2 separate regions of the Homo sapiens genome follow, and region 1 is linked to region 2. A link means that fine-mapping ties the variant in region 2 to the expression of a gene that starts in the linked region. Tissue or cell type: whole blood. Region 2 holds a variant in brackets; the other region holds the start of a gene. All regions are shown on one strand. Distances are from middle to middle.

Region 1 (8,091 bases), 37 kb before region 2:
TTGTTGGGTGTGTTTCCATTCTTTTAAGGTAGTGCTTCTACTAAGAGCCTAGGTATTTTGGCTTGTGAATTCAGATTCCACTGGGCATATTAGATACGGATCTGGTAATGGGGAAGAACCGAAGACTAAATCCTCTAGCCATTGAGGGTTAAAAATGAGAGGAAAAAGCCCTAAAGCAACAGTCCCCAACCTTTTTGGCGCCTGAGAACTGTTTTGTGGAAGACAAATTTTCCATGGACCTGAGAGTCGGGGATGGTTTCAGGATGATTAAAGCACATTATATTTATTGTGCACTTTATTTCTATTATTATCATGTTGTAATATATAATGAAATAATTATACAACTCAACATAATGTAGAATCTGTGGGAGCCCTGAACTTGATTTCCTACAACTGGGTGGTCCCATCTGGGAGTGATGGGAGACAGTGACAGATCATTAGCCATTCAATTATCATAAGGAGCGTGCAACCTAGAACCCTCGCATGCACAGTTCACAACAGGGCTCATGCTACTATGAGAATCCAATGCTGCCACTGATTTGACAGGAGGCAGAGCTCAGGCAGTAATGCAAGCTATGGAAAGAGGCTGTAATTCAAATGAACTTCAGTGGCTCACCACTCACTCCCTACTTTATGGCCCAATTTCTAACAGGCTTGGGGATCACTGCCCTAGAGCACAAGACCCCAGGGACCCCCATTAGCTGCCATACTTTTTCTCTGGTTAGGGTTTCACCTTCAAACTCCCTGAGAGATAGTCTGTTTGTAATCTACCCGTGCTGGAGTTTGCAGGAGAAGAGGGCTACGGAGCAAATGCTCTGGCAGTTAGTTGTCTATTTTCATCAATCGCTCATGTCTTTTGCTGTGCTCCATGGTCCCCTAGAGCACCTGTGACCTAGTCTATTGCAGCCTATTCCTCCAGTGAAGGGGAGGCCGTCATGGCCTCAAAACCCATGACTGCAAGAATAGAAGCAGAATTTAACAGTATGCCTCTCATCTTTCTCTGGCTGACATCTCCAGCCACCATCTGCCCCAGGCTGCAGTGACTCTATTCATACTCACCCCTCAACACACCAACACGGCCTCCAATTTCCACATTTTCTGGGTTCCATTTTGTTTTATTGCAGAAATCCATGTTGAACTGTCTTTTCCATGGTTCCTCCACAATTAACAACCTGCATCCTCTTCCCCTTTCCTCACTACCAAATTTTGAGTCATGGCCTGGGGGCTCCACGGCTGTAACCTATGCCCCAACCCACCAGAGAAGGATCCCTGGGTGCCCTGGACTTGATTCCAAGGTTCAGGAGCTAATCAGGCCCTCCCTTCCCAAGACCTCCCTCCCAGTGTTAAAACCTCTGACCTACCTGGTCTCAGAGCCATTGATGGAGGGATGGCCAGAGGTCCCCTCTGGAGAAGTGATCAGAACTAAAGAGGACACAAAGAAGACAGTGGCTGCCCAGGGCACCAGAATAGAGAATGGGATTGGGTCCCAAAAGTGTGAGAGGAAGGGGAGAGGGGCCAGAGGCAGCCCCTAAGGGTCCCTCAGGCTAAGGGTAACTGAGGCCTGAGATCTCCATAACCAGCTGAAGTCAAGTCTGGCACTGTCCTCTCCATGCTGGCGGGAGGACAGGGGCAGGAGGGCTGGGACACACGTGTGCAAGGTGTTCCATATGGACTTCCCTCTGGGGACACCCTCCCATCATCGTGAGAACATGGCGATCTTCTGATCACATCAGATAGTGCATGTTTCTCTCCCTAAGAGACAGTGGGCCCTGAAGGTAGCTTCCCACAAGCCCAGGCCCCAAGAGATCAGTCCTCAGAGGCAGGCCTCCCTGGTTTCCCCTTCCCTGAATCTGAGGCTCCCAAGCTGCCTGGTGACCCTTCTAATCTTCCCCCACCGAGGCCTCCAACCTACCTGTGCTTGTTGGGAGCCAGGGAAGAGTCCACATAGGAGACGTGGTTGGGGCTAAAGAGAAAAGACAGCAGACAATGACTCTCCAGGGGCCCAGAAGAGAGTAGGGTCTACCCCATACATAAGAGGAGGTAGGGGCCCAGAGCCAGACCCTCAGGATGTCTTAAGCCAGGAGTGGTCTGTGCCTAAGATCTGCATGACAGAGTTGTTGGTGTGTGTGTGTTAGTGTGTGTGTGAAAAGAAGAGTTGTGGGTGTGCCTGTGTAAGACAAAGAGAGACGCAGAGTGACAGACAGACTGTGTCTCTGTCCAGGGACCTCTGAGGGTACCTTCCCAACAATTGAGGCCAGGATGTACCGGGTGGAGGAGAGGTGAGAGTCCATGTTTGGGGACAGGATCTTTGCTCCCCTTGGACCACAGCAGAATACCTGGCAGGATGGGGGATGATAGAGGCATGGGAGGGGGTGCATGACATTTCCTTCAGGTCCCTGGGGGGTGGCACAGAGGTATTTCCTCAAGAAAAGAGCTCACCTGGAGACACCACCAGGCTGATATTTCTAAGAACAGTGATGATGTTTTCGGAAGCGTTGTAGATTCCACACCAGTAGAATCCCGAGTCATTCTGTGTCAGCTGAATCATGGTGATGTTGAAGAAGCCAGCATTGGGCTTGTCCCAGATTGTGTAATGAGACTTCTGAACTGCTGTCCAGGGCTTGGAGCTGGTGACAAGTAAGGTACACCGACTTGGAGATGTCTGCTGACACCAGGATTTGGGCTGATAGGGCCCTCTCTTGGGTGAGTACTGGCATTGCAGGAGGAGGGTCTGTCCTGGGTGTTTGTGAAGTTCTTCAGGCACAGCACCCTTTACCCAGGAACCGGCAGAAAGAAACCCAGGTCAGAGCTCTGAAGGGACCCAACCTCCCCCATCACAGGCTGGGGAAGGGGAGGGGGAACTAGTTCTGATGCCCACACATGGAAGAGGGCCCCTAAATTCTGTCCTATGGTCACACAGCCATGCTGCTCCCTGCCCCACTCATTCTTCATCCCACTCCTTACACCCCCTGCACTCTTTCCCTCCATGTCACCTGAGGCCAGGAGCAGCAGCAGCACAGGTGGAAGCAGCAGGTGTGGACCCCACCCCAGGCCATTCCAGCCCAGATCTGTTTCTGACAGCGGAGGAGAGGAGAAAAAAGGGAGCCCTCTCAGGAGGAGTCAGACGCTGGGTCTGATTCTGCCCCAGGTTCCCAGTGTCTCTCAGCTGGTAAAATTGAGGAAGTCAATGTCTTGCTGGGGAAATGGTCGGCCTGGGAGGGCGGGCTCTGCAGACCAGGGGAGGAGGGGCAGCCAGGCCTTGAAAGGGGCCACCAGCTACAGGGTCTGTCTCTGGGCCTGGGCACCTCAGCCCTGCTGTGTTGCTCTGCCGCCTTTCACTGAACTTCTCCCCATGTCTGCTGCTTTATGCCTTCCAGCCAGTCATACTGCTCCTCTATTGCTAGGGGCAGCTCTCAGCATGGCCAAGAATAAAGCTGGTGAATAAAGCTGGGGTCATCCCTCTTTCCTTCTCTCTGTGCACTTCCTATAGGTGGTCAGGGCCCTTGGAGGCACGACCAGACCCCTGAATCCTTCTGGTCTAGCCATGGTGGGTTGATGATGAGTTTTGACCCTGAGACATTTTGTAGAGGGCAGATTTTAATCCCAGGAATTACAAGATGTTCCCTGGAAATGGTGGGGCCAGGAAAGCAGGGAGGAAAGAGAGTGCTGGTCAGGGAAAGTTGGAGGGGAAGGCAGGTAGGAGTGGATCAGTTATGGTAGCTTGGGATCATCTCAATCAGTGCTTGTTGGATGAATACATCAGTGGATGAAAGAACAACGCGTGTGTAAAATGTACAGAAAAAGAAAATGGCCGAAGTGAGAACTATCTAGCAACAAAACCAAGTGGTACTGGATTACTACCCAATGTATATATTAAATCTCTAGGAGTCCATGCTGATGTAAGTAAATGACTGAATAAAGAACTGGGGGGGGGAATAGACAAATATCCCATGCATAAGGATTCTGCTGTGTTCAGAATGTTGTTCCCCCATCTCATATATTCAAACTTAATTTCCATGTGATAGCGTTAAGAGGTGGGATCTTGTGGGAAAATCTTAAGTCATGAGGGCGTCATCCTCAAGAATGCAATTAATGCCCTTATACCAGAGATTGCAGGAAGCAGATTTGCGCTGTCTGCCATATGAGGACAGTGTTCATGCCTTCAGTCAACTGAGGTTACTGCAAGAAAGCACCACCTTGGAAGCAGAGAGCAGCCCTCAGCAGATACCACATCCACTGACACCTTGATCTTTGACTTCCCAGACTCCAGAACTTTGAGAAAGAGATTTCTATTATTTAGAAAGTCTCCAGTCTAAGGCATCTTCTCATAGCAGCCTGAAGGGACTGAGAGAGATTGCAAACAATTCTTATAGGTATTCTGCCCTCAAGGCAGAAGCATAAATTCCCACGGCTTAAGCATGGGCTGTGCAGGTGACTTTCCTCCAGAGGATAGCATGGGAAGGAAGAGAAGAGTAACTGTACAGTGGAGAAACCTGACACTTACTGTGGCAGCCAGGCAACCAAAGTGCAGACCCACAGGGATAACTCAGGTTGTTAGAATGTGTCATTGACTTGATGTGATGACAGGGCAATTAGCTGTGCAGTCTCCTTCCCCAAAGCCGCTGGCCCCAGGAGAAAAACATCAAACAAATTCCACATGAGGGACATTCTACAAAATACCTGAGCAGCGTTCCTCAAAACTGTCAAGGCCATCAAAACTAAGAAATAATTCTCAGAAACTGCTATGAATAAGAGGAGCCTAAGCAGACATGAAGACTAAAAGCAATGTGGCTTCCTAGGTGGGATCCTGGAGCACAGAAAGTACATGAGGTAAAAGCCAGGGTAATCTGAATGAAGTAAGGACTTCAATTAATAAAATCTACCACAGAAACAGAGTAGAATGGCATTACCAGAGGCTGGGAATTGGACAAACTGGGTAGGTATTGTTGAAGAAACACAATATGTTAGACAGAAAAAATAAGTTCAAGAGATCTATTGCACAGTATGGTGAGTGCAGTTCATAACTATGAATTGTACAATTGAAAATGACAGAAAATAGATTTTAAATGTTCTCACCACAAAACAAGTAAGTATATGTGGTATTGCTTGATTTAGTAATTTCACAGTTAATACACACATCAAACTATCCTACCACGCATTATAAATATATGAGTTCTACTCATCAATTTTGTAAAATTATAGTAATGTATCAATATCAACTCATTAATTGTGAGAAATGTAGCATACTATTGGACTATATTAATAATAGAAGACATTGAACATAGCACATCAGGGAAGTATGCAATACCTACACAACTCTTCTGTGAATCTGAAAGCATTCTAAGTGTAAAAGATTAGTTTTAATATGTATAGAAACGATTTACACAAAGCATATGAATAATCACTTGATACATAACAAACAGCGTGTACATAACAAACAGCAAAGTTTTAAGAAATCTTAGTACGGCTAGGTGTAAAGCACCTACTAACACTTGATGGTAATAAGAGTCATTTTCTTAAACACACTGAAGTTTCTAAGAAAAGTATGATAAATTCTGGAAGAGGAAAATAGGAATTTATTCTCTGCATCTGTATCATTTGATGCCTTCAGTGTGATATGTCACACATAGTGTCCGATGTACTGATTGCTGTAAATGAAAATTTGTTACTATAACGTTTATACTACAGAATAGGGTTTATTTGGTGTAACAAGGCAAATACTATATTTTTACAAATAGCGTTTATTTGACATAACAAAGCAAATACTATATGTTTATTTTTCACTTAGTCATATTTGACTTTCATTGACAGCAAAAGAAACAACAAAACTTATAAATTTTAACTATTGTGATCTCAGTTTTGGCTGAGAGTATTCAGGTAGACACTGTGAACTCACTATATATTCATTGCCACCTCTTTCTTTCTTCCCTTCCTTCCTTCCTTCCTTCCTTCTTTCCTTCTCTCTCTTTTTCTTTCTCCTTCCTTCCTTCCTTCTTTTTTCTTTTCTTTTCTTTCTTTCTTTCTTTCTTTTTTCTTCTTCTGTCTCTCTTTTTCTTTTCTTGAGATGGAGTTTTACACTTTCGCCCAGGTTGCAGTGCAGTGGTGTGATCATGGCTCATTGCAGCCTTGACCTCCCAGGGCTCAAGTGATCCTCCCACCTCAGCCTCCTGAGTAGCTGGGAGTGTGGGCACACACCAATGCACCTTGTTATTATTATTATTATTGCTTTTCATAGAGACAACGTTTCACCATGTTGGCCAGGCTTGTCTTGAACTCCTGGACTCAAGAGATCCACCCAGCTTAGCCTCCCAGAGTGCTAGAATTACAGGTGTGAGCCACTATGAGTGGCTGCCACCTCTTTTTCATGGGTCTTTCTATAGTAAAAGGTCTACAAGATCATTTCTGATTCCTTTGCAGCTAGGGTTCCAGATATATTTTAGGTCCCACCCATTCAATGTATTTGTATGAGACTTAAATGAGGAAGTGAGCTAGAATGGGAAGAGAGGCATCCATTGTGCCGGTAGACTATGGGTGAGATGGAGGGGTTCTTTAGCCAGGGCTGTGATGGCAGCTTCCAGATTTGGAAAGTTGCCTGATTTGGAAAGGGTGTTGACTGTGGCAAAGGCAGTGGTCCCTTAGTAGCCCATCCTGTGGCTTTAAGAGTGATGCCCAGAAATTACATAGGATCTGATTCTGTAAAGCATTTAATGTTTGATTTTAAAAATCTCTTTCTCCTTAAAATCCGTAGCTTGGATTTTGTAGTTTGCAGCTAAATCTTGACTAATGCAAGTCCCAAGAAAATATATGCTATCTGTCAGAGTGAGGTGGGAGGCCAGTGTGAAGCACATGCCAAAAGGTATTGAAACCTTCTTTGAGGAATGAATCCCTCACACACATCAAGGGTAGAAAGTTGTGAGGAGTGTGAAGATTGGGAGAGGACTTTTGGAGACAGCTGGTAGTTGTGCTGTGACCCTGGGGGAGGAGAGGGTTAGATTCCTGCATCTTATCTCAAACCTAGGGAGAGGCTTGAGATAGGGTCACAACTTGGAAAGATGGTTGTGGCCCCTGCAGTCTGGGAGATGTAGCAGCTGAGTTGGATTCAGTCTGAGAGCTGTATTGGGTAGAGACAGCAGGCGGCAAGCTGTCCTGATGGTGGAATGGAGGAGAGGTGACCTTGTGGGGGCCCCCAGGCTCCATGACTTTGTTGGGGTGAAGGAAGTGGATGGCTTCCGTGGGCCAGATGTTGGGCTGCACAGATGTGAGGCACCCAGCATGGGTGGTTGTAGATCCCACCCAAAAGGCCTGCTGGAGGTGGAGGGACGCATGGCAGGAAGCTGGAAGTGGACTGCGAAAGGCTTGGAGGCTGAAGGAGATGTCAGGAGCACCCACCAGGAAGGAGATCCAAGGCTACATGAGGAAGCTGCAGGTGACAGGCAGGGTGTCATCGGAAGAGCCCACAACGGTGCCCTCTGAGAAACCTCAGCTTGAACTCTTTGGGTCATCACCAGACTTTCCTGACCCTTCCTCTTCTCCTCTCCATGCTCCAGGCCTGGAGGCTTCCCAAACTGCAGCTGGAGGGCAGAGAAGACCAAGTAAAGAAAGGAAAGCCAACGTGGGCCCTCTGCCCTCTGAGGGTTAAAATTCCGAGGCTTTGGGGAAGAAGCTTTATTTTACATGGAGCCCTTTTTCCTCCACACTAATCACTGAACTGAAGCCAGTTTTGGAATAACCTTTTCCCTATTTATAAACAGAGGGGATGAACGAGGGAGCACAGGGGATTTGGAGGGCAGTGGGGCAACTGTGTGATCCCACAATGATGAGTTGATGTCATCACACGTCTGTCAAAGCACAGACAGCGCGTGCTCAGCAGCAAAAGTGAGCCCTCAGGACGGTTGTGTGCTTGATGACAGGACAGGGTGCCTCAATGTAGGGTAGCCGGCTGTAACAGCCGGACCCCTGGGCAGGATGTGGATAGTGGGGGGCTGTGCATGTGAGGAGCAGGAGGTATACGGGAACTCTATGTACTTTCTCTCATTGTTTTGAGAACCTAAACTGCTCTAAAAACAAGTTGATTACTTAAACTCCCCAGAA
Region 2 (8,105 bases):
CAGACTACCCTCCATGCCCTCCATCAGGTACCTGTGGGGCCTGGGGTTGAGTGGCACCAGCACTTAGTGCCCAAACAGACCTGGAGGTGCAAGTCTTATATCTGACCTTCCCCTTTTGCTCCCCAGGAACCCAATGTGGCCTGCTTCTGAATGTGAGGTGGGGGACTGGAAGTGACATAAAGGATGGCAATGGAGAGGAGGGGCAGGAGAGAGGAGGGGCAGGGGAAAGGAGGGTCGGGGGTGGGGAGGAGGGGCAGGGGAAAGGAGGGTCAGTGGGGAGGAGGGGCAGGGGAAAGAAGGGTGGGGACAGGAGGGACAGGGGAAAGGAGGGTCGGGGGAGGAGGATCAGGGAGGAGGAAGGTCAGGTGAAAGGAGGATCAGGAAGGATGAGGGTCAGTGGGGAGCGGAGTTGGTGGGAGGAAGGTGGGGGAAGTGTCAGCAGAGAGGAGGGTCGGGATAAAGGTAGGGGGAGATGAGGGTTGCAGGGATGAGGGCAGGGGACTATGAGAGTCGGGGGCATTAGGGTCAGGGGGATGAGGATGGGGGTAAATGAAGGTTGTGGGGGAGGAGAGTCAGAGAAGAAGGTCAGTGGGAGGAGTATCAGGGGAGAGGGGGGCTGCAGAGATGAGGGTAGGGGGCAATGAGAGTTGGTAGAATTAGGGCCAGGGGGGATGAGAGTCAGAGATGAGCATGTCAGGGGATGGGTGTCCTGAAGTGTCTGTGGATGGAGAGGAGAGGGTGAGGATAGGGCAAGGATGCGCCTCATGGAGTAGGAAGTGGAAAATGGGGGATGCTTTAATTTGGATTCCTCTAGAGAAACTGACTCTGAGTCAGGGATTTGCGTCTTATATGAACACTGGAAAAAAGGTGGGGGAGTGGGACAGGGCAGGGAAGGCCTCTAATAAAGAGTACTTAACCAAGCAGCTGCTGTGCACAACAAGAGCCTAATCCCAACGGGGAGAGTCAGATCTAGCATAAAACACACATCTGAAGGGCAAAGGAGCCCGCATAGTTACACACCAACTCCAATTGGTTATCAGTAGAGGGCTGCCTGCTGTGTGTGGCATAGAGGGCTCTAGTGACAAGAGAAAGGCCTCAGCCTCCCACCCACAGAAAAGGAGGTGCTGATGATGTGTGCAGGTGGAAATGACACAGGCAAGAGGACACAGGCAGGGGCCCGACAGCATCTGCTACAGAGGATAGAGTGGGGGAACAGGCATCCTCAGACCCCTTGAGGAGAGCAAGCATCTTGATCTCTTTAGCCACAAATGGGAGTCTCCTAGAATCCTCATCCTCACTGATGAACAGATTTGGGGGCATAATGGAGGAGAGGTACCAAAGTAGAGAGATGTTCCCCTCTACCTGGGGACGTCCTCCTCTTAACTCCGGATGTCACACTTGCTTCTGTGGCCGGGTCTGTAAGGAAGAGGGTGGCCGTCTACCCCGGGAAGGGCACGCTCTCAGGGTTTCTGCTGCTGGTCCGATCCCAACGTGGGTTAGGATGGGGGACCTTGGTGCTCACCCGCTTCCACCCTGTCCCTTCTTCTCAGGCACCAGGATGTTTACTCCACTGTGCTTGGGGTGGTGCTGACCCTCCTGGTGCTGATGCTGATCATGGTCTATGGGTTTTGGAAGAAGAGACACATGGCAAGTGAGTAGAGCCCACCTCCCAGCCTCCTGAGGGCAGAGCTCTGGGTAACTGCACTAAGGGTTATGACCTCGAGTCCCCACGTGGTATGGCCCTTGGCCTGTGTCCAGTCAAAAGGACTATGACGCTTCCACCTGGGGAGGAGGGCGGCCAGGCGGAGACCACCCAGCACAACCCTAAGGGGATGACCTGGAAGGAACCAGAGGCAGAGCCAGAAAGGGGCTGGGGCTGGTGGAGGAGCATCGGGGCACCGTGGGCAGGGCAGGACACTTCCTCAGCTCTCCCTGTTTCTTGCAGGCTACAGCATGTGCAGCGATCCTTCTACACGTGACCCACCTGGAAGACCAGAGCCCTATGTGGAAGTCTACTTGATCTGAGGCCACTTAAGCATGGGGTGGGGAGCTTCTCCCAGAGTGGCCCCAGGGGGTTAGAGGAGGGGTGAAGATTGGGGCCAGTATCGATCTTATGAAGCTGGAGGACTTGTGCAGTGCTGGACTCACCCAGGACTTCCCAAACCCAGAGGCTGCCATCCTAAGCAGCCCCACAGCCCAGTGTTCTCCTTGGGGGCAGGAACCTGGGGAGGGGCCCAGAGCAAAGGGCATCAGGGAGAAAGTCCCGAGGAAATGTGACCAGTGGTTTCTGCTCGGAGCTGCAGACCCCAGGGCTCTTGGTGGAGGCAGGGGAACCCTGAGAGTGCTGTTTACAGAGAACCTCAGCTCCCGTCTGCCTCAGAAACCCTATTGGGCTGAGCTGCCCTCCCCACCAGGGCCACTGTGTCCTCTGCTTCCCTCCGTTCTGCTTCAGCTTCCCCTAAGGTTAGGGAAGAAAGAATCGGGCTCACGAATGCCAGAGGCAGTGATGTCCCATCCTGGAGGAGAGGAAACAGTGACTAAAAGCTGGGGACCCACAGAGGGGTTGGCAGCTTCTCTTGTCGGGACAGGTGTCCTTTGCTGGGCCTCTGGATGGCCCTGCCCTGACTGGGGCTGCTCCTCCCTCCTGTCCTGGGACCGCGCAGAGCCCACGCTCTCACTGCTGCCTCCTGCTGGCCGCTGCCTCCTTAGAAAGCTGTGACCAGGCAGCTAAGAGCCTCTGGGCTGCAGGGTCAGCCTCTCCCAAGACTGAAGTGCAGAGGCTGGACTTGGGGCTCTCTCCCCCAGCTTCTACACCTGGGCTCCAAGTCTGAGTTCCCACAGGGGACCCAGCAGCCTCCAGGAAGTCCATACCCTGGGGTGGCTGAGACCTTGGCTCTGTATGGAGGCTGCTCACCCCACAGACACTGGTGGGGAGACCATGGCTCAGAGGAAGGGTGGAGCAACCCTCCTCCTACCCCTCAGGATAGAGAGAGAAGACACACTTGGGACACAGTGAAGACAGTAACTTGGAACTGACCACGGCCTGGAGGACTGGCCCAGGCAGGGGGACAGGGAAAATGGAGCCCAAGTAGCCTCTGGCCAGGGACCCAATGTCCCGAGGAATCTGCCTCCCACCCACTGACTCAGGGCTCAGACTCAGCCTCTATTGTCCAGAGCACTGGCTTGGCGTCCAGCAATGAAGGCTGGAGAATGCAGCCTGGATTCCCCTACACACACACACACACACACACACACACACACACACACACACACACACACACAGGTGTCTACTGACCTGGAGTGACTGGAATAGCACCTGGGGATAAATGTGACAACTGTGCATTGAACCCTGGGTCAGGGACGTTCCAATGGCCAAGAGAGTGACACAGCCAGGACCCTGGTGGACAGCCAGAGGGGCCACTTCAGGATGGATGTGGGGAGAGTGGAAGAGGCAGGGAGTAATCCTGGGGGACAGCAGGGAGGAGGCACTTCTTCCCTATGTCCAGGAGAGGGCAATAGAGGGAAGACTGAGGCTGAAGAATTGACGGCTCTGGACCCAGGACAGACAGACAGACAGACAGACAGACAGACAGACAGACACGCACACACACCCATCTCTGTCTAGCAAGCAGCCTCCTAAGATAGCTGTTCTCCCTATCATGACGGTGTAGCCACCATCCTGTTGTATACTAGGAGAGAACTTAACCCACCTGGGGGAAAATAGCTCCCCAAGAGCTGGCACCAGTACCACTGATGGCCCTGCTTCCTCTGAGTGAGATGCCCAGGAGGAGGAGCCCTAGGGAAGAAGTCAGGGACAGGGACCAGGATACCACTCTGTCACTGTGTGACCCTCAGCAAGTCACTAACCCTTGGCCTCATTTTTCCTGTCTTGTGAAAGAGGACAATAATTCCTACTTCTCAAGATTGTTTTCAAGATAAAATAACATTAGCATTGTACAATGATGCAAATGCCTCATTACCATTATTCCTTAAGTTGTTTTCCAGCTCTAATGTTGTTTCCAACATTACATTTAAGACCTTAGGATTCTGTTTCTTG[C/G]TTTTGTCATATCTCTTCCCAAGTGTCATCACTATATGGATGTTGAGGGCCCCCGATGACAGTCCCTTTGGTAAGGTCCTCTTTTGAGGAGGGGAGGGTACAGGGTGGACTCATCTCAGTGTGAACTTGGCAAGTCACTGTCCCTCTCTGATCTTGTTTCCTCATCTGGAGAAGGAGTGAGAGAGGAGAAAGGAAGAAACCAGTCAGGCAGGCAGTTAGGGTGGGTTCTCGGTAGAATTCTTTTAAACAAAAGAACAGCCTGAAAAATCAAGCTGCAGGCACAGATATGGGAACTTGCACAGGGGGGCTTGCCTAAGACATGCCCACAGCCTCATAGATAAGACAGACTACACAGGTGACTTGCCCAAACATGCCTGCAATGGAAAATTTCATCCCCTGACATGTGCAGTAAGGGGAACAAAGCAATATGGAGTAAGTAACTCAAGCCAAGGGCCCACATGTACATTAGAAGGACAGCAGGGAGCTACCAGAAATTCATGCCTTATGCAGATGAGCTGCCCAGTCCTCATCGGTTTCTTATAAAAGCCTTTACATTCAACTGTAAAAATGGCAACCCTCTTTCAGGCCTCCTCTCCACAGCAGAGAGCTTTCTTCTCTCACTCATTAAACTTTCACTCCAACCTCATCCTTGGTGTCCACGCTCCTTAATTTTCATTGTTGTGAGACAAAGAACTCCAGTGATACCTCAAACAATGAGAGACTGCTACATTGTGGTGCACTGGTGAGACTGTAACAGGAGGGTGGAGAGGAGCTCTGAAGCCTCTTCTGACTTCCTTGGGTATGTGTGTCAGAGGTGTTTAAACCAGATGGACTCCATCTTGTATAGAGGCTGAGTAAAATAAGGCTGAGACCTACCGGGTTGCCTTCCCAGATGTTAGGCATTCTAAGTCACAGGGTGAGATAGGTTGACACAAGATACAGGTCATAAAGACCTTGCTGATAAAACAGGTTTGCAGTAAAGAAATCAGCTAAAACCCACCAAAACCAAGATGGCAATGAGAGTGACCTCTGGCTGTCCTCACTGCACATTATATGCAAATTATAATGCATTAGCATGATAAGAGACACTCCCACCAGCACCATGTCAGCTTACAAATGCCATGGCAACATCAGGAAGTTACCTTATATGGTCTGAAAAGAGGAGGAACCCTCAGCTCCAGGAATTGCCCACCCCTTTCCTGGAAAACTCATGAATAATCCACCCCTTGTTTAGCATATAATCAAGAAGTAACAATAAATATAAGCAGCTAAGCAGCCCATGTTGCTGCTCTGCCTATAGAGTAGCCATTCTTTATTCCTTTACTTTTTAAATAAACTTGCTTTCATTTTACCATATGCATTTACCCTGAATTCTTTCTTGCATGAGATCCAAGAACCCTCTCTTGGGGTCTGGATCGGGATCCCTTTCCAGTAACATGTGCAGAACAGTTGCATGGACACAGCTCAGCATTAATGAGGTGGGGCACACCGGAAAAGAACAAGAACCAGCCCTGGCCTCAATCTGCTCACAGCCTCTGAGGGAAGGGAGACATGGCACTGCTGGGTACACCCCAGACCTTAGCACAGGGTAAGACACCACAGTGCAAGAGATAGGAGGTTCTCAAGTCCTTCCAAGATGGGGAACTGGGAATCCTGCAGGCTCTGGCTAGCCAGGCAGGCTTCAGGGAGGAGGTGGGGCTCTATCTGAGGCGCAAACCACAGGGTGGAGTCAGGAGGTGAGATCTAGGTGCAGAGACTGCACAGGCCATGGCAGCTGGGAGCCATGGGGAGGCTTGACGAGAAGGGCTGTGGAGGGTGGAAGGGGACATGGCCACTCACCAGCTGGTTGCTGAACCCAAGCAGAGGCCTTTAGCTGTGTCCTGAAGTAGAGCACGGTAGCTGTGAGGGTGACCAACTGTCCCTGTATGCCCCTGAGGGGTTCCTGGAACCAAGTGAACCAGCACAATTTGCTCACCCTAGGAGCCTGCTCCCATATGAACTCCCATGGTAAGGACACGGGGGCTGAGGAGCTATAGACCAAGCCCCATATCCCCAGCCCCAACTGGACACTTTCCTAAACACACCAGCCTTTCACTTCCTCCCTCCTCTCTCAACCTTCTTCTCGAAGCTCCAGGGACCCAGATCCACAGCAGATCCACGGCAGGAAGGTGCAGGGCAGGTGGGGCATCGGACAGGCTGCTCACTTTAGCAGGTGAGACAATAAAGCTTCCTGAGCAACAGGCTGTGGACATAGAACACACACCTGGGAAGGGCTGGCCATCATGGCCAATGGAAGAACAAATAAAGTAAATCCAGTACCTCCTGGATATACACACACCTGCATGGAGCCCAGCAAGCAGGCATTAGGTTTACAGTTCTCTTCAATGGCTGCAACATGCTTTCACTCTGGATCAAATTGAGAGAGTGGATGCCGTGCTGCCAGCTCCTCATGTGGGACTGATGGACATTAGGAGTGGTGAGGGCAGGTCTCCTCTGCCAGCTTCTCTGGGGTCTTCCTCAGCTGCAGAAAGCCACCTTGCCAAGGCCAGACTCCCCTCCCAGGACACCCCACCTCCCCTGACTGACAAGTCCTGAAGGGCCATCCTGTCTTAGGAACTCCTCCCAGGATAGCCTGAGTCTCCTTATGGCCTCTATTGCAGCCTGACTTCTCCTTCTGCCTGTGAAAGGAAAATAAATCTCAGAACCCCAAAATCACTAAGCCAGGGGAAAAATCAAGCTGGGAACTACAGCAGGCAAACTGGCCTCGCATTTTATTCCTAAATAAGATAGCTACAAAGATTAAAAAACTATGTACCTCCCTCACAATTTGCCCACAAGACAATTCTTTGTGGGCCTTGAGATCTTTACCCTAAAACAGTTCTGTTGATTTTCACCCTGGCAATGTAAACTGCTAGCTGGTCTTCACAGGTGCAGGAAAGAAAGTTATCCCTCTGCTTGCCTAGGACAAATGCGTATCTGATTGCTTCTCTGCCCTATTGTTTATGTAAAAATGCAGATTCACTGAGCCAGACTAAATTGTGTGTTCAGTGAAAGACTGATAGAGGACTTAAAAGAATGCAACCTTTTGTCTCTTATCTATCTACGACTTGGAAGCCGCCTTTCCCACTGCCCCGTCCACACAAACCCTGGACCAAATGCACATTGGTCCAGACCGAGTCGATATACATCTTACATATAATTATTGATGCCTCACGTCTCCCTAACATGTATAAAAACAAGCTGTGCCCCAACCACCTTGGGCACATGTCTTCAGGGCTCCTGAGACTATTATAGGCATGTCCTTAACCTTGGCAAAGTAGACTTTCTGAATTGATTGAGGCCTCTCTCTGATATTTTGGATTCACATGCCCCATCCTGCTTCCTGCTCTTCTCTTCCCCAGATGTTGGTCCCAGAGCGCTTTAAACCTCCAGTGCTAATCTGCAGCTGACTCTGTGCCCAGGAACCCAACCTGCAGCACCACGGTTTATAGTTTTTCTTTTCTTTGTTGTTTATTAACTGTCAATCGCCTGTGACAATTGATTTTCTATAGTTCATCTAAGGACAATTATTTTTAAATGTGTTTGATTAGTGTCATCTTTCATCAAAGGCTCTGGAGTGATTATGGCAGCTCAGAGCTGGGGAAGGAGATGATCTGGGGACTGAGATACCCTTTCCCCTCCTCCTCCCTTCCCCATCTTCCCCTCCCCAGGCTTTACTCTCTCCCACCTTTGCCATAGACACCCCCTGCACCTCCATTCCTGGAAGTGAATCTCCATCTCTTTTCTCCTCTTCCCCTCCTGTTGACATGGAACTCCCCGGTTCCAGGCAGGCCTGGTCATGAAGTCTCTGACCCCTGGGAGCCAATGGGTCTTCAGGTTCTAGTCAGACCTCCAAAAGGCTCCCTAACACTGTCACTCACCTTCAGCCTGTGTGTTAGCTGGGTGAGGAAGAGAAACTTCAGGCTGGGGAGGAAGTGGTAGAATAGAGGGGAGAGAGGAGAAAGAGGTTTTTATTTCGCCATAGTTTCCTCCTGGACTTTCTCAGCTT

What was found. PIP is the estimated chance that this variant, and not a neighbour inherited with it, causes the effect.
Region 1: it holds the start of TREML4, and the variant in region 2 is fine-mapped to the expression of TREML4 in whole blood (TOPMed, PIP above 0.99).

Annotation. Positions count from the first base shown.
Region 1 is chr6:41,223,393-41,231,483 of GRCh38, reverse strand. TREML4 (triggering receptor expressed on myeloid cells like 4) reads right to left here and starts at 3,135. Exons shown (of 6, transcript NM_198153.3): 1 at 2,994-3,135; 2 at 2,440-2,770; 3 at 1,913-1,963; 4 at 1,362-1,422. The coding sequence starts at 3,056. It overlaps LOC105375055 (a long non-coding RNA gene), which reads right to left. Exons shown (of 3, transcript XR_926794.3): 3 at 5,656-7,571.
Region 2 is chr6:41,186,347-41,194,451 of GRCh38, reverse strand. TREML2 (triggering receptor expressed on myeloid cells like 2) reads left to right here. Exons shown (of 5, transcript NM_024807.4): 3 at 1-27; 4 at 1,551-1,651; 5 at 1,946-4,703. The coding sequence ends at 2,025. LOC107986595 (a long non-coding RNA gene) reads left to right here and starts at 8,063. Exons shown (of 3, transcript XR_001744118.2): 1 at 8,063-8,105. RefSeq lists enhancers at 2,914-2,983, 2,602-3,109. The variant C/G (reference allele first, on the strand shown) is at 4,058.